4 linked regions of the Homo sapiens genome follow. The protein of the gene in region 2 interacts with the protein of the main gene of each other region in a biochemical or structural test. Each region holds a gene or a part of one and is shown on either strand. Other genes may lie near its edges.

Region 1 (3,021 bases), on a different chromosome or scaffold from region 2:
CCCGCTGGCAGAGCCGCGGGTTGACGACGGTGTCCTCGCAGTGTCGCCGCCACCCCAGCGTAGTCCAAGTCAGACTATTTCACAAAGTCAGAGCGATAGGAAAGCACCCTGCCCTTCATCTTCATGTTCTCCCAAATGGAACTTAGGATCTTTTAACATAGGTGGTTCTGTGATAACATCAGTGTTTTCCAAATCAAAGGAACGCTTTAAAAAATAGGACCTATTTTTTAAGACTTTACAGCCTTTGAAATGGTTTCCACGTGATTGTTACGCCAGCAGTTCTCGTTTTGTTTGTTTTTCAATCTCAGTGAAATGGCTCTTTGCTTTCGAGTTCTCACGCAACGTACTGGGCAAATGACAATCCTCAGCCGCTGGTATTTTCTAAGGGGTCTCTTCACTTTGATGAGTGACATGAACACCGTGTCTCCTTCTCTTGTGTGTACCTAAAGCCATATTTCCAAGTCTGTGGTACTCCAGGATTCCAGGAGTAAGCCTGTAGAAGAGATTTATTTTAAAAGAGATTGCTCTGAAATTTATCTTAAAAGAGCTTGCTCTGTCTACCTTGACAGAAATTGGAGTTTTAAAATTATGTGTTAATATTTTTATTTGCAGATTTCGTTTCCGTCAACTTAAACATTGTTGCCCTTCAACAAGGCTCTTGAATTAATAAAATTATAGTCTCTAAGAATTCCACATTTTATGGAAAGTTAGAGCAAAATCATTTTGAGTTAAGCCAGTTCTTAGCCTAATGCAAACTGCAGCGCCTTTAAGCATAAAGTAACACAACAGCATTGCACGGGGCCGGCACTGCCGCTGCCTTCACTGAAGGCTGCAGTGCTGTTCTGAGAGCTTGGAGGAGGCACCAGCGAGGATGACGTTTAGTGGAGCTCTTTCTGTTGAAAAGAGCTCACGTTATCAACACCTTGTAAGGAAAATACAGTGTCTGAGTTTTCATCGGTCTTCACATGCTGCTATATATTCCACAGAGTTCCTTGCATGTACTGAGCTTTTGTTTTAGATGGAATAGCACAAGGAGAAAAATCTTTAAACTTAGTGCTTTGTCTATTCTTTATTTCTCTCAGGGTGGCCAGTATTTTGACTTATTTATCCTGCTTGAAAGCTACTTGAGATGTGTACTGCTATTCTAAACACGTGATCTAGTTTCTTTCATCTCTGGCATAAGATTATATAACTTAATGTTAAGTGTCTTGAGGCATAAAAGACAAAATGTGGCTTATTTTAGGATCTGTTTTTTCATCGAGGTCTCGGGTATCCTTTCAAAGATAGTGAGAAGCAGACACTGCTCCTTGTGCAGCTCTGGTACCTCCTGCCCACTGCTGTCACTTCAAGCCACTGGCAATGCTTCTGTCCTCGTGTCTTGGAGGAAAATCACCTGGGGGGAGGGGACTTCTTGTGGTAAGAGCAAGTGCAGGTATGAAATGCGAAGATTGCCCCAGCTAAAAGTGGACAAGTCCGCTTTGTGAGATGAATACTTCCTGAGAAACTTGACAAGTATCTCTCCATTTTACCATTATGAAAACTATCATTAAAAAAAACAGTTTAGATGCCTTCTCCTTTTGAGGGAAAAAGGGTGCTTTTTATTGTATAAAGCAGCGTCTTATGTATTTTGATATACCATTGTTTGAACTTCCGTCTTTAGCTGATAGATTCTCAAATATCCTTGATTTTGGATGTTCAGTATGTTTGTGAGAGAGGTTTCTGGGAAGACTCTCTTTTTGCCCTCGGGAAAAAGCAAAATATCAATGTTTGGGTGACTGTGTAAAGCTCAGTGTGTAAGAACATCTTTTTGTCTAGGTTTTCTTTCTGCTCTTTATTGAAGACAAACACTCACCAAAAAGAAAAATAAAAGTTTTCAGAGAAACTAATTTTCTTTGGCAAGAGTATTACTTAATATTTTGGCCTCCTAAAGTTTCCCTAGTTAGTACTCGGACTCCTGTGCTAATTGTCAGCTTACATATCATTGTATAGAGACTGTTTATTCTGTACCAAACTGATTTCAAAAGTACTACATTGAAAATAAACCGGTGACTGTTTTTCTTCATAAAGTTCTGCGTTTGGCATCTTCACTCTTTCCAAAATGTATCTGTACATCAGAAATGTCACTATTCCAAGTGTCTTTTTAGTGTGGCTTTAGTATGGCTTCCTTTTAATATTGTACATACATTGTATCTTTGTTTTATGGTAATAAGTAATAAAAATGTAGACTTCATATTTTGTACAAAATGTCCTATGTACAGAATAAAAAAGTTCATAGAAACAGCAAATATAGGTAAGTGGCACAATTATTTTTCTTTAGAAAATATCTGTAACTTTATGCATTAGTGAAATGTTAAGTACCGACATATTTTTTAACATTTTGTAATTCAAAACTTTTTGTTTTGACATTGTTTATGAAGAGAAACTTCATACACTTGCCATTTAATATGCTCTTTTATCTAATTTTCAAAAACTCTAAAAAACGGTGTATCATATGGACTAAATAAAGAACATGTGAATTTTATTGCTCATCATGAAACTAAATTTAGCCATGGTGTTGAGCAAGCTGGCTCTGACGTTATCGGGTTCCCGTTAGGTCAGGGCCGCCCACACACAGGGACGCTGACTGCAGAGGGGCTGGCCATCTCCATCCAGCCCGCCTGGAGCGCTGGCTGCGCCAGATGCTAGCCACAGCTGTTCAAAGCTAAGTCTATCCACTGATTTTTTTACTTACTTAGTGGAAAAGGCAGTGTGACTTTTTATAGACCGCCTCTTGGTTTGGTTTGGGTTTTGGGGCTTTTTTTGAGTAAGAAAAGGTGAATCAATACAATTTATAGAAATGAAAGTCTTGAAAATAGGGAATTGCTGAAAGTATGAATTTAGGATCCTAGTTCGCCCACCTCCTCCTCAGTGGAGAGATCATTATCCTCGCTGATGCTCTTGCGAGAAGCCCATGGAAACAGGACTAAAGTGTTATCTGCTCGTGTCGTGGTTATAACCTCACCTCTCCATAGCTGCGTGTGG
Region 2 (7,000 bases):
AGCGTAAAAAGGATGAGAATCTGACCCTTTCACTGTTACCAATTATTTTAGAGATCAGGTGATACTGCTCTTATCCAGATTCGAATGAGCATTTATTGAGCTCTGTTGTGTACAAGTGACCTTTGTGCTTAGAGAGAGAGGAGGGGTCTAAATGGACGAGTGGGCTGGGTATGGTGGCTCACACCTGTAATCCCAGCACTTTGGGAGGCCGAGGTGGGCAGATCACCTGAGGTCAGGAGTTTGAGACCAACCTGGCCAACATGGCAAAAAATACAAAAATTTAGCTGGGCATGGTGGTGGGTGTCTGTAATCCCAGCTACTTGGGAGGCTGAGACACGAGAATCACTTGAACCTGGGAGGCAGAAGTTGCAGTGAGCTGAGATCGCACCACTGCACTCCAGCCTGTGCAAAAGGGCCAGACATCATCTCAGAATAGGTGAATGAATGAATGAGTAATCACATGCGCTGCCTTTCCCTGTTTCTCAAGTCTGGCATCACTTTAGAATCTCTTGTTAGGATTTATGACACCCAGGCTTTACCTCAGAAGCTGAGAGTGGCACTCAGGTATAAGCATGTGTTTCCAAGCTCCCCAGGTATTCCATAGCGCAGCCAAGTTTGAGACACTGGGGTCTAAGAACCATGTAGAACTAATTAGAATCCTGAAGTGTCTGTGATAAAGATAATAAGCTTTTTGTAAGATTACAGAGGACATAGGTTAAGTTGGAAAGCCTGAGTGTTGAGATTCCTAGGCTCAGGAATTTTAATTTAAGCAAAATTAAATGTCCTAACTTGCAAAGACATGAATCTGTAAATTCCAGATTAATGGCAGGTGTGAATTGTACAATAGAAACTGATCTAGCCTACGTGTCTTCTTGGACTGGCAGACTATGTTAATCTTTTTATTTTATGGCAAGTTCAACATTATTCCCTTTTGTACTGAATTTTAGATTACTGATTTTGGGCACTCCAAGATTTTGGGAGAGACCTCTCTCATGAGAACCTTATGTGGAACCCCCACCTACTTGGCGCCTGAAGTTCTTGTTTCTGTTGGGACTGCTGGGTATAACCGTGCTGTGGACTGCTGGAGTTTAGGAGTTATTCTTTTTATCTGGTAAGAAATATTTTCATTGCTGCACAGACTGGTAGGAGGTGATTAGATGAAGTCACAAATGTGTCTTGCTCTGTTGTCCAGGCTGGCATGCAGTGGCTTGATCTTGGCTAACTGTAGCCTCTGCCTCCTGGGTCAAGTGATCCTCCCACCTCAGCCTCCCGAGTAGCTGGGACTACAGATGCACACCACCATGCCCAGCTAATTTTTCTATTTTTTGTAGTGATGGGGTTTTGCCATGTTGCCCAGGCTGGTCTCGAACTCCTGGGCTCAAGTGATCCTCCTGCCTCGGCCTCCCAAAGTGCTGGGATTACAAGCCTAAGGCATTGTGCCCAGCCTAGCTCACTTTTTGACCATTGATTTAAAGAAAAATCTGACTTTTCATTATGCTGAAAAAGAAATCTTTATATCTGAATGCCACTGAGAATGCCACTTGATTTCTTTTCCTTTCTCTCTCTACCAATATTAAGCCTTAGTGGGTATCCACCTTTCTCTGAGCATAGGACTCAAGTGTCACTGAAGGATCAGATCACCAGTGGAAAATACAACTTCATTCCTGAAGTCTGGGCAGAAGTCTCAGAGAAAGGTATGAATATGAAAGGGTTAAGAATTTGTGGTATGCTAAAATGTGTATGTGCTGTGGTGGGAGTTTCTTCCCAAATTCCATGGTGTTTTCTCCTGTCAATTCTGTTCTTATTTTCTATTGTTAGTTTCACACCATTTGAGAGGCACTGGAAATTATTAAGAGCATGCACTCAGGTCCTGGGTCTGCTACTACTTAGCTGTGTGGCCTTAGGCAAGTTATTTAACCTCCATCTCCAATTTCTTTCTGTGTAAAGGGACCCTCAATAAACCCTACCTTAAAAGGTTTTTGTGAGGGTTAAGTATCATGTACACAAGTGCCTGGTACCTATTTTAGTGAGCAAAATAAATGCACTTGTAACTTTTTAGTTACAAGGTTTCCTTTGAGTAAGCAAGCATGTAAAAACTAGATGTCATTAGTTACCTTGTATTTTATAATTTATCCTGGCAACTTTAGTTCCCTGAAGAGAAAGTAGAAAATTAAATGTCAAATAACATAACATAGGTGATTGTGTTAAATGTCAGAATATTTAAGGAATAATAATGTTGTAATATACAGGCCAGCGTGCATTTGTTGCTTGCTGGAGTAGCCAAGTTTTATTTCTGACAAGTCTGCAGTTCCAGGGAGCCTCTCCCTCGCTGAGTAACTGTCACCTATCCATCTGTAGATGTCAGAGAGAGTTTGCTGTGCATCCCAAGTATCTTAGAATTGGGTAGAAGTTTAGCTTTAATTAGTCCGACCTTGAGTCTAGCAACAAGAGAGGGAACAGGCAGTGAAGAGGTCGTGACTGACGTCCCAGCAGCAGGAGACAGGGAGTGTCATTATCATTCCTGGTCTTCTCACAGTACTCTGAATACAGAGAGTGAGGAAGATTAGGGGGCCCTGTCTGCTGACTCCGTGATGATCTCAGACCCTCTCTGCTCTTTCTGAATGGTGGCCTGTTAATTCTGGCATACTCTTACTGATAATATATTTATCCTTTTCACTGTGATTTGCCCAATTGTTGCTTTAGCTCTGGACCTTGTCAAGAAGTTGTTGGTAGTGGATCCAAAGGCACGTTTTACGACAGAAGAAGCCTTAAGACACCCGTGGCTTCAGGTGGGTGTGGGACAGTGCCTGCTAGCATAAAATACATGGGAAGCCCTGCTGCCTGAGAGACATGAGACAGAGGACAGAAACATGTTTACTTTGTTGAGTGTTTAATCTAATTGTTTTAGATGTATGGGGGGTATCTTGGAGGATGGGTTACAACCTGTTTTATTTTTTTTTTTGAGACAGGTTCTTGTTCTGTCACCCTGGCTGGAGTGCAGTGGCACGATCTCAGCTCACTGCAACCTCTGGCCCCCGGGTTCAAGTGATTCTCCTGCCTCAGCCTCCCAAGTAGCTGGGATTACAGGTGCATGCTGCCATGCCCAGCTACTTTTTGTATTTTTTGTAGAGATGGGGTTTCGCCGTGCTGGCCAGGCTACAACCTTTTTGATATTACTCATGGCTGTTGGATGTACACGCTCACTTTATGTCCTGTTCTGGTTCCACTTGGCTGCCCCGAGTCTCCTGTTTGGCCTGTGTTCTTTTGAGTGCTTGTTCTGGCTCTACCCCCAGCCATGTCCACTGCTCTTCATAGGTGGGGTGCATTCCAGCCATCTTCAACCTTAAATCAGGGAAGTGGGGGAGGGGGAGGAGGACAGCCTCCCTGGGGAGAATCCAGCTATTTCTCAAGCCCAAGTGACTGGGTATAAAGGGTCCCACTGCTTGTTCATTCAGGTGAGTAAATGTGTCCTTAATGAAGGCTGTCACCTGCACTTTTCATCTGTATTACCGCTGTGCTCCTGCTAGGGGTTGGGGCTGCCATTTTTAAATGCTGACCTCATCTGGAACTGCCAAGAGTTGGAAGTATGTTGTGGCTTTGCTGGGTTAATCTTTAGTTTTAGAATTAGCCACGGCATTGGGCAGGTTTTTCTGATAGATGTCTGGTCTTCTGTAATGAGCAGTTCCATTCAGCACAGACATGCCCCTTTCTATGAATTTTTTTTTGGTTTGTGTATTAGTCTGTTCTCACACTGCTATAAAGAACTGCCCAAGACTGGGTAATTTACAAAGAAAAGAGGTTTAACTGACTCACAGCTGCACATGGCTGGGGAGGCCTCAGGAAACTTATAATCATGGTGGAAGGGGAAGAAGGCATGTCTTAATGGCAGCAGGTGAGAGAGCTTGTGAAGGAAGTGAAGGGCGAAGATCCTCTTATGAAACTGTCAGATCTGGTGAGAACTCACTCACTATCACGAGAATAGCCTGGGGGAAACTGCCCCCATGAGCCAATCACCTCTCAACAGGTCCCTTTCTCAACACCTGGGGATTACAATTTGAGATGAGATTTGGGTAGGGACACAAAGCCAAACTGTATCAATCCGTTTTCTGTGGAGATGGGGGACAGAACTGGTAGCTTGAGCTAGAGGCTGTTACTTGAGCTAAATGCTGTTTCTCTGGGGATTACTGGTCCAGGAACTCCTTGGGCAGTCCAGCCTCCGACCCGTACTTCTGGGACTCTGGGAAGACTGTCCCTGTTCTCTGTTCCAATCCTCTACACCTAACAGTTTTGCTCAGGCCAGCTCAGGTTGAGAACAACAAAAACTTAAAACAAACAAACAAACAAACAAAAAAAGACATATATGTGTTTGGATGTTGCCCTGGAAACTACAGTCTCCCCAGAAGAAATCTGTCAGATGATTTAGCATTTAATAGACCACACAGATTTGAAACAGTGGGACCCTGGAGGAAAGGGGTTTGGAAACAAAGGGTGCCTTTGCATGTGGGGATTTTAATTTTGATGAAAAAGAGAAACATGTCTTTTGGCTCTTTTCATGTGTCCTAATAGGGAAACTCTTGGGTCTAAATGTAGAGGTACAGGAGCTGTGTTCATCTCTAACAAAAAATAGAGCTGGCCAGTTGAGCCTGGGAACAGGGTTTGCATCTGCCTGAAATTTATGAGCAAGCATAGCCTATCTTTCTTGTACTTTTTTGTGTCAAAGAAAACTTATTAACAACCAAGGAGAAGGTGAAGTTCAACTCTGTTGCAGGATCTCCCTGGAATACTCTTTTAGCCACCTTTTGTTTTTGCAGTGAAAGGAGGAATGAGCATTGAATGAAGACAAGGATGAAGACTGACCATCTAAAACATCTGTTAGTGATAGTTTGGGTTTTATTTTGGGAAAATTCAGTGTTTTTGAAAAAACCAAATGGTTTTGTGGGTCTGTCGCTGAACTGAGTGTTGGGAATGTGGATTCTGGTCTCTGTTTTGTCATTAACAGAGTGCCCAGTTTTGGGAGCATCCCTTACATCTACTCTCTGCCTCATATTTACTGCCTGAAATAGAGGATTTCTTCTGTTTACTTTCAAGGGATATTACAATTTAATTTTTATTTTATTTACTGTTGGAGACAAGGTCTTCTTCTGTTGCCTAAACTGGAGTGCACTGGTGCAATTATAGCTCACTGCAGCCTTGATCTCCTGGCCTTAAGGGATCCTCCCGCCTCAGCCTCACAAAGTGCTTGGATAATAGGCACGAGCCACTGTTCCTGGCTAATTTAATATTTTGGAATAATTGTAGACATCATGAAGAAAATCAATGTTTATTTATTTATTTCCTTTTTTGAGATGGAGTCTTGCTTTTGTCTACCAGGCTGGAGTGCAATGGTGTGATCTCAGCTCACTGCAACCTCTACCTCTGGGTTCAAGTGATTCTCCTGCATCAGCCTCCCAAGTGGCTGGGATTACAGGTGCCTGCCACCATCCCAGCTCATTTTTGTATTTTTAGTAGAGATGGGGTTTCACCATGTTGGTCAGACTGGTCTCGAACTCCTGACCTCAGGTTATCTACCCACCTTGGCCTCCCAAAGTGCTGGGATTCCAGGCATGAGCCACTGTGCCTGACCTGATTACTTGTTTTAAATACAGGCCTGATTAGGCTTGTGACCACTCTGTTTGGCTTCACTGAAGGGCTGCCAAGAGATGGACTTTTGAGAGTGACACTGCAAGATAATTGAGATCCTAAGTAAGGCCGTGAGAGGGTGCGGAGTAGAATCCAGATGAGCTTGCTGCTGTCAAATGGCAATGGGGAGCTACACTGAGAAACTCAAAACAGAGTGACCTCAAGTGATCTGCCCTGCCTTGGCCTCCCAAAGTGCTGGGATTACAGGCGTGAGCCACTGTGCCTGGTCCTTCTTTCCTTCTTTCTTTCTTCCTCCTTCCTTCCCCCTCCCCTCTCCTCCATTCCTTTCCCCTCCCTTCTTTCGTCCCCCCTCCCCTTTTTCCTTCCTTGCTTCTTTCCTTTCTTCCTTCCTCAGGGTCTTGCTCTCTCACCTAGGCTGGAGTGCAGTGGCATGATCACTGCACCATGACTTTCAGGCTCAAGTGATCCTCCTGCCCCAGCCTCCCAAGTAGCTGAGACTACAGGTGCATGCCACCATGTCTGGCTAATTTAAATTTTTTTTTTTTTTTTTTTGGAGACAGTGTTGTACTCTTTTGCCCAGGCTGGAGTGCAGTGGTGTGATCCTGGCTTACTGCAACCTCCGCCTCTTGAGTTCAAGCGATTCTCCTGCCTCAGCCTCCTGAGTAGCTGGGATTACAGGCGTGCACTACCATGCCCTGCTTATTTTGTATTTTTAGTAGAGAAGGGGTTTCACCATGTTAGCCAGGCTGATCTCAAACTTCCGACCTCAGGCGATTCGCCTGCCTTGGCCTCCCAAAGTGCTGGGATTACAGGCGTGAGCCTCCGTGCCTGGCCTAATTTTTAATTTTTTTTGTAGTGACGAAGTCCCACTATGTTGCCCAGGCTGGTCTCAAATTCCTGGCCTCAAGCAATTCTCCCACCTTGGCCTCCCAAAGTGCTGGGATTATAGGCATGAGCCACCATGCCCAACCTAGTGTTGTAAAATTTCCATATCCATCAAATTGCCAAATGGTGGAGGACTTTACTGTATCCTCTCCCTTTCCCCACTGTGGTATGCTTGGCTCAGTGGGAGGAGGGGCTGGAGTTGGGTGGGAAAGTACATGAGGCACTGGAATCAGATAACTCTGGGTCTGTATTCTGCACATGCCACCTGTGAGTGGCTGAGCTGGGCTTCTGGCCAGCACTCAAAGGCCACATTCCTAGTTATGGATGTTCCTTTCACCTTGCTGAAGATGGGGAGAGCTGCACCAGACCACCTCTCAGGGTTTCCTAATGCAAATCCTCGAACCCTGCAGAAGTGAGCATCCAGAGAGGTGGGAGCTACTCGCATACACACTGTCTGTGCCCTCCTCATCTCCTG
Region 3 (7,252 bases), on a different chromosome or scaffold from region 2:
TAGCAGAGTACTTCGGACGCAACTGCCTGACTGCAAAGCACTGTCCAATACCACCACTGTTCTCAACTCCTTTCTTTCCATCCCTGAGTCAAACTCAACATCTTTACCTCTCCCACAATATTCAGCATAGCTCCTAAATGTGGTAGGATGGAGATGCTTGTATTTTAAATGAACAATTCCTACTGCATATATAACTATTTCTACTTTAAACAGGCACTCCCTGACATTTCTTCTTTGTATATAAAAAAAGTCCTGGCTAGGAGCACTGGCTCACGCCTGTAATCCCAGCACCGTGGGAGGTGGAGGCGGGAGAATCACTTGAGGCCAGGAGTTCGAGACCAGCCTGGCCAACATAGCAAAACCCTGTCTCTACCAAAAATAAAAAAAGTTAGCTGGGTGTGGTGACACGCACCTCAATAATCCCAGCTACTCAGGAGGCTAAGGCACAAGAATTACTTGAACCTGGGAGGTGGAGGTTGCAGTGAGTTGAGACGAGCCACTACACCCCAGCCTGGGTGATAAAGTGAGACTCTGTCTCAAGAGAGAAAACAACAGGCTGGGCACAGTGGCTCACACCTGTAATCTCAGCACTTTGGGAGGCCAAGGCAGGCAGATCACTTGAGGCCAGGAGTTCAAGACCAGCATGACCAATATGGTGAAACCCTGTCTCTACTAAAAATATAAAAATTAGCCAGACTTGGTGGCGTGCACCTGTAATCCCAGCTACACAGGAGGCTGAGGCCAGAGAATCACTTGAACCTGGGAGGCAGAAGTTGCAGCGAACCGAAATCATGCCACTGCACTCCAGCCTGGGTGACAGAGTGAGACTCCATCTAAAAAAAAAAAAAAGTGGCCAGGCACGGTGGCTCAGGCCTGTAATCCTAGCACTTCGGGAGGCAGAGGTTGGCAGATCACAAGGTCAGGAGAGTTCAAGACCAGGCTGGCCAAGAGGGTGAAACCCCGTCTCTAGTAAAAATACAAAAATTAACCAGGCATGGTGGCAGGCGCCTGTAATCCCAGCTACTCGGGAGGCTGAGGCAGAGAATTGCTTGAACCCAGGAGGCGGAGGTTGCAGTGAGCCAAGATCATGCCACTGCATTCCAGCCTGGGTGGCAGAGCAAGACTCTGTCTCAAAAAAAAAAAAAAAAAAAGTAAATAAATACTTTTTAAGAATCTGATAAAAATGTTTATACATGGAGGCTGGGGTGGTGGCTCACGCCTGTAATCCCAACACTTTGGGAGGCCAAGGCAGGTGGATTTCTTGAGCCCAGGAGTTCAAGACCAACCTGGGCAACACGGCGAAACCCCGTCTCTACTAAAAACAGAAAAATTAGTTGGGCATGGTGGCATGCGCCTGTAGTCCCAGCTACTCAGGAGACTGAGGCACGAGAATCACTTGAACCTGGGAAGCAGAGGTTGCAGTGAGCCGAGATTGCACCACTGCATTCCAGCCTGGGCAACAGAGCAAGACTCAATCTCAAAAAAAAAAAAAAAAAAAGGTTTATATATACATGGTAACAACCCAATAAATGTCCATCAGTTGATGAATAGATAAACATTGTACAGTATATTTATGGAATATCATCCAGTTATTTAAAAAACTGAAGTTGTGATATATGCTACAACATGGATGAACCTCAGAAACATTATGCAAAGTGTAACAAGGTTAAGTGTAAAAGACCACGTATACATTTATAAGTCCAGAATACGCAAATCCAGAGAAGCAGAAAGTAGATCAGTGGTTGCCAAGGGCAACATTGGGGAGAGAATAAGAAGTGACTGTTTAATGGTTATGTGGTTTCTTTTTGGAGTGATGAAAATATTCTGAATTAGAGAATGGAGATGGTTGAAGAACATTGTCAATATGCTAAAAAAAAAAAAAAAACCCTGAAATGTGCACTTTATTTATTTATTTATTTATGTTTTTTGTTGAGACGGAGTCTCACTCTGTTGCCCAGGCTGGAGTGCAGTGGTGCAATCTCAGCTCACTGCAAACTCTGCCTTCCAGTTCAAGTGATTCTCTTGCCTCAGCCTCCCGAATAGCTGGGACTACAGGCACGCACCACCACCCCCGGCTAATTTTTGTATTTTCAGTAGAGATGGGGTTTCACCATGTTGGCCAGCCTAGTCTCGAATCCCTGACCTCAAGCAATCCACCCGCCTTGGCCTCCCAAAGTGCTGGGATTACAGGTGTGAGCTACCGCATCTGGCTGAAATGTGCACTTTAAATGGTTAAAACAGTAAATTTTATGTGAATTTTTCTCAAAATAAGAGATGAGTGCTCAGTATGTATCAGCTGTGAGGATAAGAGCACAAGATGACTATCACCGATGGCCTGGGTTCGTGTGCATGCAGCTTTCTCAGGGAGACACAGTTCTGATATGAACTGTTCCTGAAACAAACATGGCACAGGAAGGCAAAGTTCCTGAGATATATTGCTAAAAAACTGTTTCACATCCATGAAATGCAATCTTTTCTTTTTTTTTTTTTTTTGAGACAGAGTCTTGCTCTGTCACCCAGGCTAGAGTACAGTGGCACGATCTCGGCTCTCTGCAACCTCCGCCTCCCGGGTTCAAACAATTCTCCTGCCTCAGCCTCCCAGGTAGCTGGGATTACAGGTGCCCACCACTGCACCTGGCTAATTTTTATATTTTTAGTAGAGACAGGGTTCCACCATCTTGGCCAGGCTGGTCTTGAACACCTGACCTCGTGATCCACCTGCCTCAGCCTCCCAAAGTGCTGGGATTACAGGCGTGAGCCACCGCGCCCGGCCATGAAATGCAATTGTATGCATCATTTAAAAGAATAAGGTAGGCTGCGCACGGCGTGGCTGACGCCTGTAATCCCAACACTTTGGGAGGCCAAGGCAGGAGGATCACTTGAGGTCAGGAATTCAAGACCAGCCTGGCTAACATGGGGAAACCCCATCTCTACCAAAAATACAAAAATTAGCCAAGCCTGGTGGCATGTGCCCGTAATCCCAGCTACTAGGGAGATTGAGGCAGGAGAATCACTTGAAGCTGGGAGGGGGAGGTTGCAGTGAGCCACGATCGCACTACTACACTCCAGCCTGAGTGACAGAGCGAGATTCTGTCTCAAAGTAAGTAAGTAAGTAAGTAAGTAAATAAATAAATAAATAAATAAGGTAGAACTTCATGCAGTGTGCATCTCCAAAATACACTGTTACTTGAAAAAAAACACACAAGGGAACAGTGTATATACTATGAATTTTTTAAAAAGGGATGGAGGCGGTAGGTATATATGCTTGTATGTGTACAGAATGACCCAGGAAGACCACCCAAAAAAACTGCTAATGGTGGTTGCATCAGGAGAGAAGAATGAGGGAGCAGGAGTTGGGGAGGGAGCAGGAGTTGGGGAGGGAGCAGGGAGGGATGGAAAGGGTGAGGGGAGATTTTCTTTTTAGTGTATACCCTTTTGCACCTTTTGAATTTTGCACTATATGCATATAATACCCATTCAGAAAGCAAATATAATAAAACCCCAATGGCCAGGTCTTTGTGGCTCTGTCTGTAATCCCTGTAATCCCAGCTACTCAGGAAGCTGCCTCCAAAAAGCTTAAAAAAAAAAAAAAAAATTAGTTGGGTGTGGTGGTGTGCACCTATAGTCCTAGCTACTCAGGAGGCCAAGTTGGGGGATCACCTGAGATCAACAGTTCAAGACCAGCCTTGGCAACATAGTGAGACTCCGTTTAAAAAAGAAAATCAAATATAAATAAATAAAACCATAATAGTTATCTCAATACAACAGAATACTATACAGAAATGACAATAGGCCAGGTGCAGTGGCTCATGTCTGTAATCCCAAGGATTTAAGAAGCTGAGGCAGGAGGAATGCTTGAGTCCAGGAGTTCAAGACCAGCCTAGACAACACAGTGAGACCCCCATCTCTGCAAAAAAAATACAAAAATTAGACTGGTGAACTGGCACATGCCTGTAGTCCCAACTACTGAGGAGGCTGAGGTGGGAGGATCGCTTGAGCCCGGGAGGTCGAGCCTGTAGTGAGCTGAGATGGTGCCACTGCACTCCAGCCTGGGCAACATAGTGAGACCCTGTCTCAAAAAAAAAAAAAAAAGACAATAGGAGTCGAGCACAGTGGCTCATGCCTGTAATCCCAGCACTTTGGGAGGCCAAGGCAGGTGGATCACTAGAGGTCAGGAGTTCGAGACCAGCCTGACCAACATGGTGAAAACCTGTCTCTACTAAATACAAAAAATTAGCCAGGCGTGGTGGTGCATGCCTGTAATCCCAGCTACTTGGGAGGCTGAGGCAAGAGAACCACTTGAACCTGGGAGGCGGAGGTTGCAGTGAGCTGAGATTGTGCCATTGCACTCCAGCCAGAACAACAAGACGAAACTCCGTCTCAGAAAAAAAAAAAATCACAATAAATCATCTACAGCTACACTGAACGACATAGATGAAATGAACAAACATAACAAGGGAAGCCAGATAAGAAAAGTTTATACCACACGATTCCATTTTATATGCAATTCAAAATCAGGCAAAATGAATCTATGCTGTTAACAATCAGGACAGTGGTTACCCTTGCAGGGGTACTGACAGAAAGAACCTGAGGGAACTGCTGGGGGCTAGGCATGTTCTGTGCTGCATCTGGGTGTGGAGTACACAGGGCTGCAGTTTGCAAAGAGTCACTGAGCTGTACTCTTACTTACACCTTCACTTCACTCTATGTATGTTACACATCAAAAAACAGTAAAAACAAATTTAAGACACCACAGTGGCGAACTGAGTGATTAGAAAACCAATAACAATCAAAAATGACCATAGGCCCTATTGCTGATGAACATTTCTTCTAAAAATGACACACCTCCAGTGACACACCAGAGTTATATCTGGGTCTTGTCCAAGCCACCCCTCCAGCCCAGGAGTAGTTAGCAAAGAGGTTGGCATTTCCCTCTGGGAGCAGGTGATGAACAGACAACAGAGCCTGCTGTGGCTACTGCAAACAACCAGGTGTGTGGGGCTGTCATAAGCAGATGGCTAAGCCCCATGTGGTAAGATCGAGATTTTGCATAACAATAATTAGAGGAGAAAATGCAGGGTAGTAGAAGAACCCACAGATGTGGCCAGGTGCAGTGGCTCATGCCTGTAATGCCAGCACTTTGGGAGGCCAAGACAGGAGGACTGCTTGAGCTCAGGAGTCCGAGACCAGGCTGGGCAACATAGTGAGACCCCATCTCTACGAAAAATTTTTAAAATTAGCTGGGCCTGGCGGCACACGCCTGTAGTCCCAGCTATCTGGGAGGCTGAGGTGGGAGGATTGCCTGAGCCCAGGAGGTTGAGGCTACAGTGAGCCATGACTTTGCAACTGCACTCCAACCTGGGCAAGAGAGTGAGACCCTGTCTCAAAACATAACATAACAACCCAGAGATAAGCCTACTGCCTTGGTGGCCAGAAATGTCTGCCTTTATCAGTTACGTCAAAAGAATCAAAATTAGCATTTGATGAATCCAGAGTAACCCCACAAATTAGTCATTGCCAGATGCAATCAGTCATTCCAAAGGGTCTCTGACGTGGAGTAAGTTAACAAAACAACTGCTGCAATGCTGATCTCCCACTCCTGTGTGTGGCCCCTGCAGTTGATTGTCAACATGGAGCCAGCAGGATCCTGTGAAGGCCTAAGGCAGATCCTGTCCCTCCTCTGCTCGGAGCCCTCCGGTGGCTCCTATCTCACACCTGGAGTAAAAGCTCAAGTCCTTTCAATGGCTTTCCAGGCCTTAAGTGGTTTTTTAGGGGTTCCCAGTCCCACCCTGTTACCTCATCTCCTACCTCTCTCCCCCTGGCTGACTCCACCCCAGCCATACTGGCCTCCTTGCTGTCACAAGCCAGCTTCAGAGTCTTTTCCCTAGATACATACATAGCTCATGTTGCTCAAATGTCCCCTTTTCAGGGAGGCCTTCCCGGACCCTACTATTTAAATAAAAATCCTTGCCACTGCTCCAGCTCCAGCTGGGGCACTCTCATTCCCCTTCATTAAGTTCCTCCATAGCACTCATCATCCAACATATGTTTCACTGACTCATTTGTCAGTCTTTCCCTACTAACGTGAAAGCTCCACAAGACTGAATTTCTTTTGTTTTTAAGAGACAGCATCTCATTCTGTTGCCCAGGCTGGAGCGCAATGGTGCGATCATAGCTCACTACAGCCTTGATCTTCCAGGCTCAAGTGATCCTCCCGCCTCAGCCTCTGGAGTAGCTGGGACCACAGGCATAGGCCACCACGCTTGGCAGATTTTTGTATTTTTAGTAGAGATGAAGTTTCCCTGTGTTGCCCAAGCTGGTCTCGAACTGCCAGGCCTTGGCCTCCCAAAGTGCTGGGATTATAGGCGTGAGCTTACTGCACCCCACTGAGAGTGAATATTTTTTGTCTTCTGCTGTGTACTGCTGTATTAAAACAGTGCTTGGCCTACAGAAGGCACTTAATAAATACTTGACTAAATAAATGAGTGAATGAACAAATAAATCCATCATCTACTCCCGAGTCTATAGGTTCTTTCTCTGCACTGACAACTTCCCCACATTCTGTCTTCAGCTCCACATGTGATCCCCAACTGCCTCCTGGATGCCACCCCTAGAATGTCCCAAAGTCACATCAAACCTGGACATCCCAACTGAAACACATCACCTCCCCAAGCTGCTCCCTCTGGGGTTTACCATGTTGGTGACCGCTGCAATACTCCCTCAGTCTCTCCCAGGCCAGAGACAGGTTCTGTCTCTTCTGCCTCCAGTCACTCTGTTTCCACAGCAACTGGGGTAACAGAATGAAATGTGATTTCCCTGGAGTCACTTGATCATAAGAGAGCCCAGTGGAATCATCACCCACTAAGTAATAAAAACACAAATCCCTCCCTCTACACAAACACCTACATGTTGACAGAGCACTTGTGCAGACATTATGTCACCGAATTTTCACAACTCCGGGCTTGGATGTCATTATTCCCAATGGACACATGAGAAAACAGGTTAGAGAAATGAAACAATTTTCTTGAGGTCACCGATTAAGAGGAAGAGCTGGGGGCTTGAATCTAGATCTCAAGACTAAAACTGTCAGCAATCTGTATCTATCACAGTTTAAAAGACTGAGGTCAGGTGCAGTGGCTCATGCCTGTAATCCCAACATTTTGGGAGGCCAAGGTGGGTGGATCACTTAAATTAGCATTTGGTGCTCATTTGCCTTGAACTCCTGAGGTCAGGAGTTCAAGACCAGCCTAGC
Region 4 (7,252 bases), on a different chromosome or scaffold from region 2:
AAATGTTGTAATGTTATATTACTTGTATGTGTACATGATTAAATTGAAAGCCAAAACTTTTAATTAAGATACTGAGGTTTATTTAGGCACCTCTCAGCATGTTGGATGTAGTTCAAGAATTTTCTGAAAAAGGAAGCTTGTTTATTAAGTGAAAATGATGTGTCTTTTGAAGCAGGCATAGAAAGTCAGGCTACCCTTTTGGAATAAATGTCTAAAATTTTATCACCCAGCCACATTTCTAACTGTATTCTAAGCTTGTAAAACTTTAATTTAGTTAATTTTTAATTAAATTATTTAATAATGATGCTTTCTGTCTTAGAAAATCAGGGGACATTTATGTGGACCTAAGGTGTAGGTTAGACTTCAGCACCTTACACGTCATATAAGATGATTTTTAAAATCAGGAAATAGTATGTCATATTGCATTAGGTTCATAAGTCCATGAAAGCAGAGGAGAATAGGCCCAAGAAAGAAGTCCTTACAGAAAGGAAATCAGTGTGGTCCTGAAATAGGGTTGGTATGGACAAAATAGAGGCTCAGATAATTGGATCAGAAGCCACTTTCAGTGACTATCCACATACCAAAGTTTTAGAAACTTAGTTGTGGTAACATATCTCCATCTGTCAATCAACAGGCATATACTGAGTGATTCCTGTATACAAAGCCCTGGATTAGGTACTGGGGCCCCCTAGTGTATGAGCAGAACTTTCTGTCATAGAGAAACCCCACTTGTTAGCACTAGGGAATGTATCCAAGTCACTCGGCACCAAAGTATGTTAGCAGCGGGGAATCTGTGGGTCTGTAGCAACCTCATTTCTTGCCTCCTCAAGGAAGAACAAGGCAGAGGGAGAAGCCAAGGCAACTTTTAGAGCAGGAGTGAAAGTTTATTAAAAACTTTTAGAGCAGGAGGCCGGGCACGGTGGCTCATGCCTGTAATGCCAGCACTTTGGGAGGCTGAGGCGGGTGGATTACTTGAGGTCAGGAGTTGGAGACCAGCCTGGTCAACATGCTGAAACTCTGTCTCTACTAAAAATACAAAAATTAGCCAGGCTTGGTGGTGCACGCATGTAATCCCAGCTACTTGGGAGGCTGAGGCAGGAGAATTGCTTGAACCTGGGAGGCGGAAGTTACAGTGAACAGAGATTGCACCATTGCACTGCAGCCTGGGTGACAAAGTGAGACTCCGTCTCAAAAAATAAAATAAAGTTTCAGAGCAGGAATGAAAGTAAAGTACATTTAGAAGATGACCAAGCAGGCTACTTGAGAGATTCAAAAAGTGCATGGTTTGACCTTTGACCTGGGCTTTTATATGTTGGCATGATTCGGGTGTTATATTACTTCTCTCCTGATTCTTCCCTTGGGGTGGGCTGTCCGCATGCCCAGTGGCCTGCCAGCACTTGGGAAGTGCCGCATGCGTGGTGTTTACTGAAGTTGTGTGCATGCTTACTTTAAGCGATTTTTCCCTTAGCAGTAGAGCATTCCCAGAGGTAGGTCTTATACCAGTTAAACACCGCAATTTTGCCTCTTAGTGCACATGCTTGAGCCCAATTACCCACCTCCTGAGATCTCATGGGGACGTGGCTGAGCATCAGTTTCAGGTGTTTCTGTCTATTAGGGACCGTGTTTCCTTGGTGCCAGCTGCAACCAATTATTATTTTAGCGAGAGATAGTTTAACAACCATCTGACCTTCACCTGATGGCCGCCTGACATTCCTGGTTGGGTGGGGGGCCCTCTCTTGCCCTGCTCATGTCTAATACCTACTCTGGCATCCCTACTATGTACAGATGAGGGCTACACCGAGACATTAAAATTAGTCAAAGAGCTGCCCGAGGGCAAACATGCCCTCCACAAAGACAAGTGGTAAGGGAAGAAGCATGGTGATGATGTGTAGCAATTGTTTCCTTCAATGATGGCTGACACTCCCATTCCCGGATAACAGCAATAGGTCAAGGCAGACATATCTAGAAGTTCTGGAAGATTAAAGGCCTTCACATTTCATGTACTTAGAAATAGCTAAGGGGATAAAAAATTATTCCCTAAGAAATAAATGCCTAAGTACATGTAATTCTGTAAGGTTGAAGAGAGCCCAAAAGAAGAGGTAAAATGCTGGCTGGGCATGGTGGCTCATGCCTGCAATCCCATCAAGTTGGGAGGCCGAGGTGGGCAGATCACTTGAGGTCAGGAGTTCAAGACCAGCCTGCCCGACATGGCGAAACCCCGTCTCTACTAAAAATACAAAAATTAGCCAGGCGTGGTGGCATTCACCTATAGTCCTAGCTACTCAGGAGGCTAAGGTAGGAGAATTGCTTGAACCCAGGAGGTGGAGGTTGCAGTGAGCCAGGATAGCACCACTGCACTTCAGCCTGGGTGACAGAGCGAGACCCTGTCTCAACAACAACAAAGAGGTAAAATGCTATCTTCATTTTTCCCTATTCTCTCATTTCAAACAAAAGAAAGTGCAAGCTGGGATGGACGCGGTGGCTCATGCCTGTAACCCCTGTAATCTCAGGTGCGGTGGCTCACGCCTGTAAAATGCACTTTGGGAGGCCAAGGCAGGTGGATCATGAGGTCAGGAGATCGAGACCATCCTGGCCAACATGGTGAAACCCTGTCTCTACTAAAAATACAAAAATTAGCTGGGTGTGGTGTCACATGCCTGTAGTTCCAGCTACTCGGGAGGCTGAGGCAGGAGAATCACTTGAACCCAGGAGGCAGAGGTTACAGTGATCCAAGATTGCGCCACTGCACTCCAGCCTGGTGACAGAGCGAGACTCCGTCTAAAATAAAAAAGAAAGAAAGAAAGAGCAAGCTTTTCTCTCCTCATGAAGTCAAAGCTTGATAGTAGCTCAGACTCAGGGAGCCCACACTCAGGATCTTTGCATGTGTGTCTCAGCATTGTCATTTATAAGCTGGCTTTTTAGAGTTGTTTTGGTCTTGTGCACATCAGCACATCATTCATATTTTATACAAAATTGTGACGTGATCAGTATCTCCTCCAACTTCATCCTGAGCACACTGCGTGCATGAGGGTTTGAAATTGTTTTGTAACAAATAATCATAAATTTAGAAGTACGTGACGTAAGCTAATTCAGGTTGCCCAGAGTTCCACTTAATTTGATTTATTGCAAAACAAATACGAAAGTTCATGAATTTGACATAGACATTGTTAACATACTTTAAGTATTTCTAGCCTGTTTACTTATTATGCAACAAATCCAACATTCCTAGAAGTGCCTATTTTATCTAGACTAATTGTTTCCACACACATTAAAAGGACTCAAGTGAATTGTAGAAATGTATTCTAAAAGAATATGCCCTTTGAAATGATTCTCCATCTGGATACAGACTGCAGGTTTAAGTATAGAGTGGTGGGGAATCTAAGGTGTAAGGTGACCCTAGAGTTTTCAAACTCAGAGTGAAAAAATCTTGCCTAAAGCTAGGATTCAAAAATACCAAGAGATGAAACTCTTCTTATGGGTACTATTAACTTGGGGTTGATTCATTTAATTTTCCTTTTGCTTGGTTTAAGACCATGTACTATAGGAATGATACAGTGGCCAGTGACTTCATTGTCTGACATTTTCAACACCCTTTGTTACTTCTATCTTCACTGGTGAGCTGTGGATTATTTTATCATCTGGATGCTTAGAACTCTGAGCAAGTCATGTTCTAGAACTATGAGACTAAACAATGAAGAACTTTGCACTGGTAATATCAAAGTACTGAAAGTGTGTGGTTTTAAAGTGTGAAAAACATGGCAGTTAAGATCTCTCAGGTACTTTGAACCATAATGCAGTTTTCCTTCTCTTCAAAACCTCTACTTCTAAATGGCATTCATTGTGTTTTCTAGTGTTTTTTCTTTGGTATGACACTAGTTAACCTGTATTTCTTACCATAAAGCTAGGACTCAAATACTAAGAGGTTTGACTCACCTTAGGTGGAACTTTATATAGTACTTTAACTTAGAAATATTTGGAATCAATTTCTGCTTATAAAGGTATCAAAAGCAAGTGATACTAAAACGAGTAGGTTCAAAGTTGTATACTAAATAGAGACCTTGGTAAGAGAGAATGAGGGATTTTCAAATATGGTCCAGAAGATAGTCTCTGAAAGGCTAAACCAGCAATGGTTACTAGCCATGCAGGAAGCCAGTGCTGTCTAATCTTACAAATTCTGTTTTCCTGCCAAATGGCATTTAGGAGCAACTGATAATTTATTTCTTGCCACTTGCCGTTACTGGAGATTTATTTGGTTTCTCAACTCAGCCCTTAACAAGAAAGCAAGTCTTTGTTGAGGGCACAATATTATCAGTATGGCAAAGCTAAGACGAGGCTTCTGTGTGACACTGGAAAGACCAACAAGAATGGATTAAAGAGAGTGATTTTCCATATGCTGTCACTGGGACAGGTACTTTTCTCTGTAGACACACAGGCTAAAAGCAGTTTAAAAGCTTCCTTACCTAAACAGTACATAGTTCAAGGAGATAGGCCCTGTGTCCATTGCGTCTCTAGTTTTTGTTTCTAACCCATTATATAAAGAAACATCCCAGTTTGCTTTTTAGAGAAAAGTTCAAGTTAGAACCATTCTCTGGTCTTGCTAAGTCTCTTAATTGTGACACAACTGTCCTAAGCAACTGTCCTTGCACAAGAATGTCACTCATCTGCTTCATCTGCCAGCTCCTTAGAGATGAGGGGGGTCTGTGTGTCAGCAGGAGGCAGAAGGCCCTGTGGCTCATCCAGTGGCCTGATTTCCTTTGTTTGGAGGCTTGGTTCTGAGTGAGAGTTCAACAGCCTTTGCCCAGGCGGCTTCTCAAACACAGGGTGTGGTTTCCTTAGCTCACTCTCTGCTGTTTGGTTGCTCATGGCAACAAGATCCAAATAACTTGGACATGTGTTTGTATAAAAAAAACCTGGGAATGGAACCCAAAGTGAGACTTTGGGGCTTTCAGTTAGTGGAAGAGCTGCGGTGAGTACCAGGCAACTGCTCATTTATTTTCTCTCATTCTTTCTCTCTAAATTACGCTGGAAGTTTGCTAGCACAATAACCATGTTTGTGGATAGTTTTAGAAAGTAGTCTCAATTCTTGTATTTCCTGCACAAATGAAATAATTGCTATCTATTTACCCGTGCAAATTTCTTTTTCGGGGGAGAGGAACAAATTAGCATATGTTTAAAGAAGTTGAAAGCTAATAGAAACTCATATTTGGTACCTTTTGGGTGGCAGGATTCTATAGGAAATGCCTTGGCAAAGGGAGCTGCAGAGTGCCTTAGTAATGCTTGGGATTGCAGGCGTGTTGTCTAGGGCCACAGCCGGGGAGGGGACCAGGGAGGGAAGAGGGGTTGTTCATACGGAGGGAGTGGAAGGGATTCTTGGAATAATTTTTTCCAGACTCTATTTTAAGATTATAATTTTTAAGACAGCAAATATCCCAAATGGTAATACTGGTTACACTTCTATGAGCATATTGATTCTCACTTGCTTGACTCAAGGGAGGGTTTGATTTTGGTCACAAAGCCACCCGTGACTATGACAGATAATTCAAGGTTGCCAAACTTGCCTGTGCCAATTGACAAAGCCATTTATATAAGTCCTCTCTTGCTATATTGCTCTGGCCTCAAAAGGCAGTAAACTCTCTTGGACAAAACTCTTTAGGATCTATTCAGGGATTTAACACTTTTCTGCTAAATTGCAAGTAAATTTAAACATTTTAAACAAATTAACAAGGATTGCTTAGGTACCTGGTGTGGTACAGAATGAGCTGTCAGTTTCTATTCTGATGAATAGAATTTTATAGATAGGAGGAACGGGAGGCCTCCAGAGGATACTACCCTCCCTAAAAAGAGACGGAGGAAGAGCTGAAAGCGGGCAGAGAGGCTTCTTGATGACAACGTGGTGGGCTTAGAGAAGCTGCTGCCTGCAGGCGGGGCCCCTGCTTTCCTGCACCCCTTTGAGCCTCTGCCCCACACTCTTCCTTTGTATAAAACAACTGCTTCTTGCCTGCCTGCCCCATCACACCCCTCCACTCCATCGGGTCACTGCTCAATGGCACAATAGCACTGCTCAGCCATACCTCCCAGCATCCTGTCCCCTATCTGGTGACTTGGCCAACACAGGCTCTGATCCACTTGCCCCGCTCCGCATCTTTTGTGAATCAGCACAGTTGATATATCTGAGCAGGGGCTTCTACCATCTCCCCAGGGAATCACTAGCCATCGGCCATCTGGCCCCGCGGGGTGCTTTTGTTCCTGGAATCATAGTGAAGTATCTGTTGTCTTGGTGCCTGGTAGTCAGCTCGGCTGAAGGGGAAGCTGGGTCTTGGTCCTCAGACCCCATGGACTCCAAGGCAGCATTGTGCAGGTGCCTCTGGGAGCCACTGCTCAGGGTGCTGGGGCATTTCCTGTGGTCATTTGTCCTGTCTGCTTGCCCCCGCAGGTCCCTCCAGCTACAAGGTGGGCACCATGGCGGAGAAGTTTGACTGCCACTACTGCAGGGATCCCTTGCAGGGGAAGAAGTATGTGCAAAAGGATGGCCACCACTGCTGCCTGAAATGCTTTGACAAGTTCTGTGCCAACACCTGTGTGGAATGCCGCAAGCCCATCGGTGCGGACTCCAAGGTAACGGGCATCCCCATGTGCCAATGGGAAGGGCTGGGTTTTGGAGTGTCCTTTGCCCACAACCATGGCAGCAGCAGCTGGCTGTTAGGATTTCCCAGCATCACTGCAGCCACCTTGAGGCCTCAAGGAAGCCTCCTCCACTCCCCAGGCCACAGTGGCCCGAGCTGTTTAATGTGGGGCTTGACTGGATGGGCGCCAGCGCCCTTGCCAGCTCTTTTGATTGCATTCTAAATATTTCAAGAATTGTGAGATTTTTATCCTCACCTCAGCGTCCCTCCTATAAGAATAGTCACTGTGGGGCAGTCCCAGGTGTAAGGGACTGTGTCATCTCAGTGGTCAGTCCCAGGGAAATCAGCCTTATGGGAGGGCTCCTGCCACCACCCCCAGCACCCCTCATGGTGGCCCACCCTGTCTGCTTGGTTTCCAGGAGGTGCACTATAAGAACCGCTTCTGGCATGACACCTGCTTCCGCTGTGCCAAGTGCCTTCACCCCTTGGCCAATGAGACCTTTGTGGCCAAGGACAACAAGATCCTGTGCAACAAGTGCACCACTCGGGAGGACTCCCCCAAGTGCAAGGGGTGCTTCAAGGCCATTGTGGCAGGTACTGCCTCCTTCCCACCCCGGGTTCCCAGGGAG

What was found.
Region 1: the proteins of CHEK2 (region 2) and PPP2R5C form a complex in vitro, tested with the Homo sapiens proteins (one study listed by BioGRID and IntAct).
Region 3: the proteins of CHEK2 (region 2) and XRCC1 form a complex in vitro, tested with the Homo sapiens proteins (one study listed by BioGRID and IntAct).
Region 4: the proteins of CHEK2 (region 2) and FHL1 form a complex in vitro, tested with the Homo sapiens proteins (one study listed by BioGRID).

The regions. Positions count from the first base shown.
Region 1 is NC_000014.9:101,925,457-101,928,477, forward strand, and holds the end of PPP2R5C (serine/threonine-protein phosphatase 2A 56 kDa regulatory subunit gamma isoform), read left to right. Parts: 3' UTR 1-2,521; downstream 2,522-3,021.
Region 2 is NC_000022.11:28,689,821-28,696,820, reverse strand, and holds part of CHEK2 (serine/threonine-protein kinase Chk2), read left to right. Parts: intron 1-947; coding exon 948-1,111; intron 1,112-1,578; coding exon 1,579-1,694; intron 1,695-2,703; coding exon 2,704-2,789; intron 2,790-7,000. UniProt on the Homo sapiens protein: Serine/threonine-protein kinase which is required for checkpoint-mediated cell cycle arrest, activation of DNA repair and apoptosis in response to the presence of DNA double-strand breaks.
Region 3 is NC_000019.10:43,565,400-43,572,651, forward strand, and holds part of XRCC1 (DNA repair protein XRCC1), read right to left. Parts: intron 1-7,252. UniProt on the Homo sapiens protein: Scaffold protein involved in DNA single-strand break repair by mediating the assembly of DNA break repair protein complexes. Negatively regulates ADP-ribosyltransferase activity of PARP1 during base-excision repair in order to prevent excessive PARP1 activity.
Region 4 is NC_000023.11:136,199,974-136,207,225, forward strand, and holds part of FHL1 (four and a half LIM domains protein 1), read left to right. Parts: intron 1-4,928; exon of another isoform or gene 4,929-4,966; intron 4,967-6,433; coding exon 6,434-6,615; intron 6,616-7,042; coding exon 7,043-7,217; intron 7,218-7,252.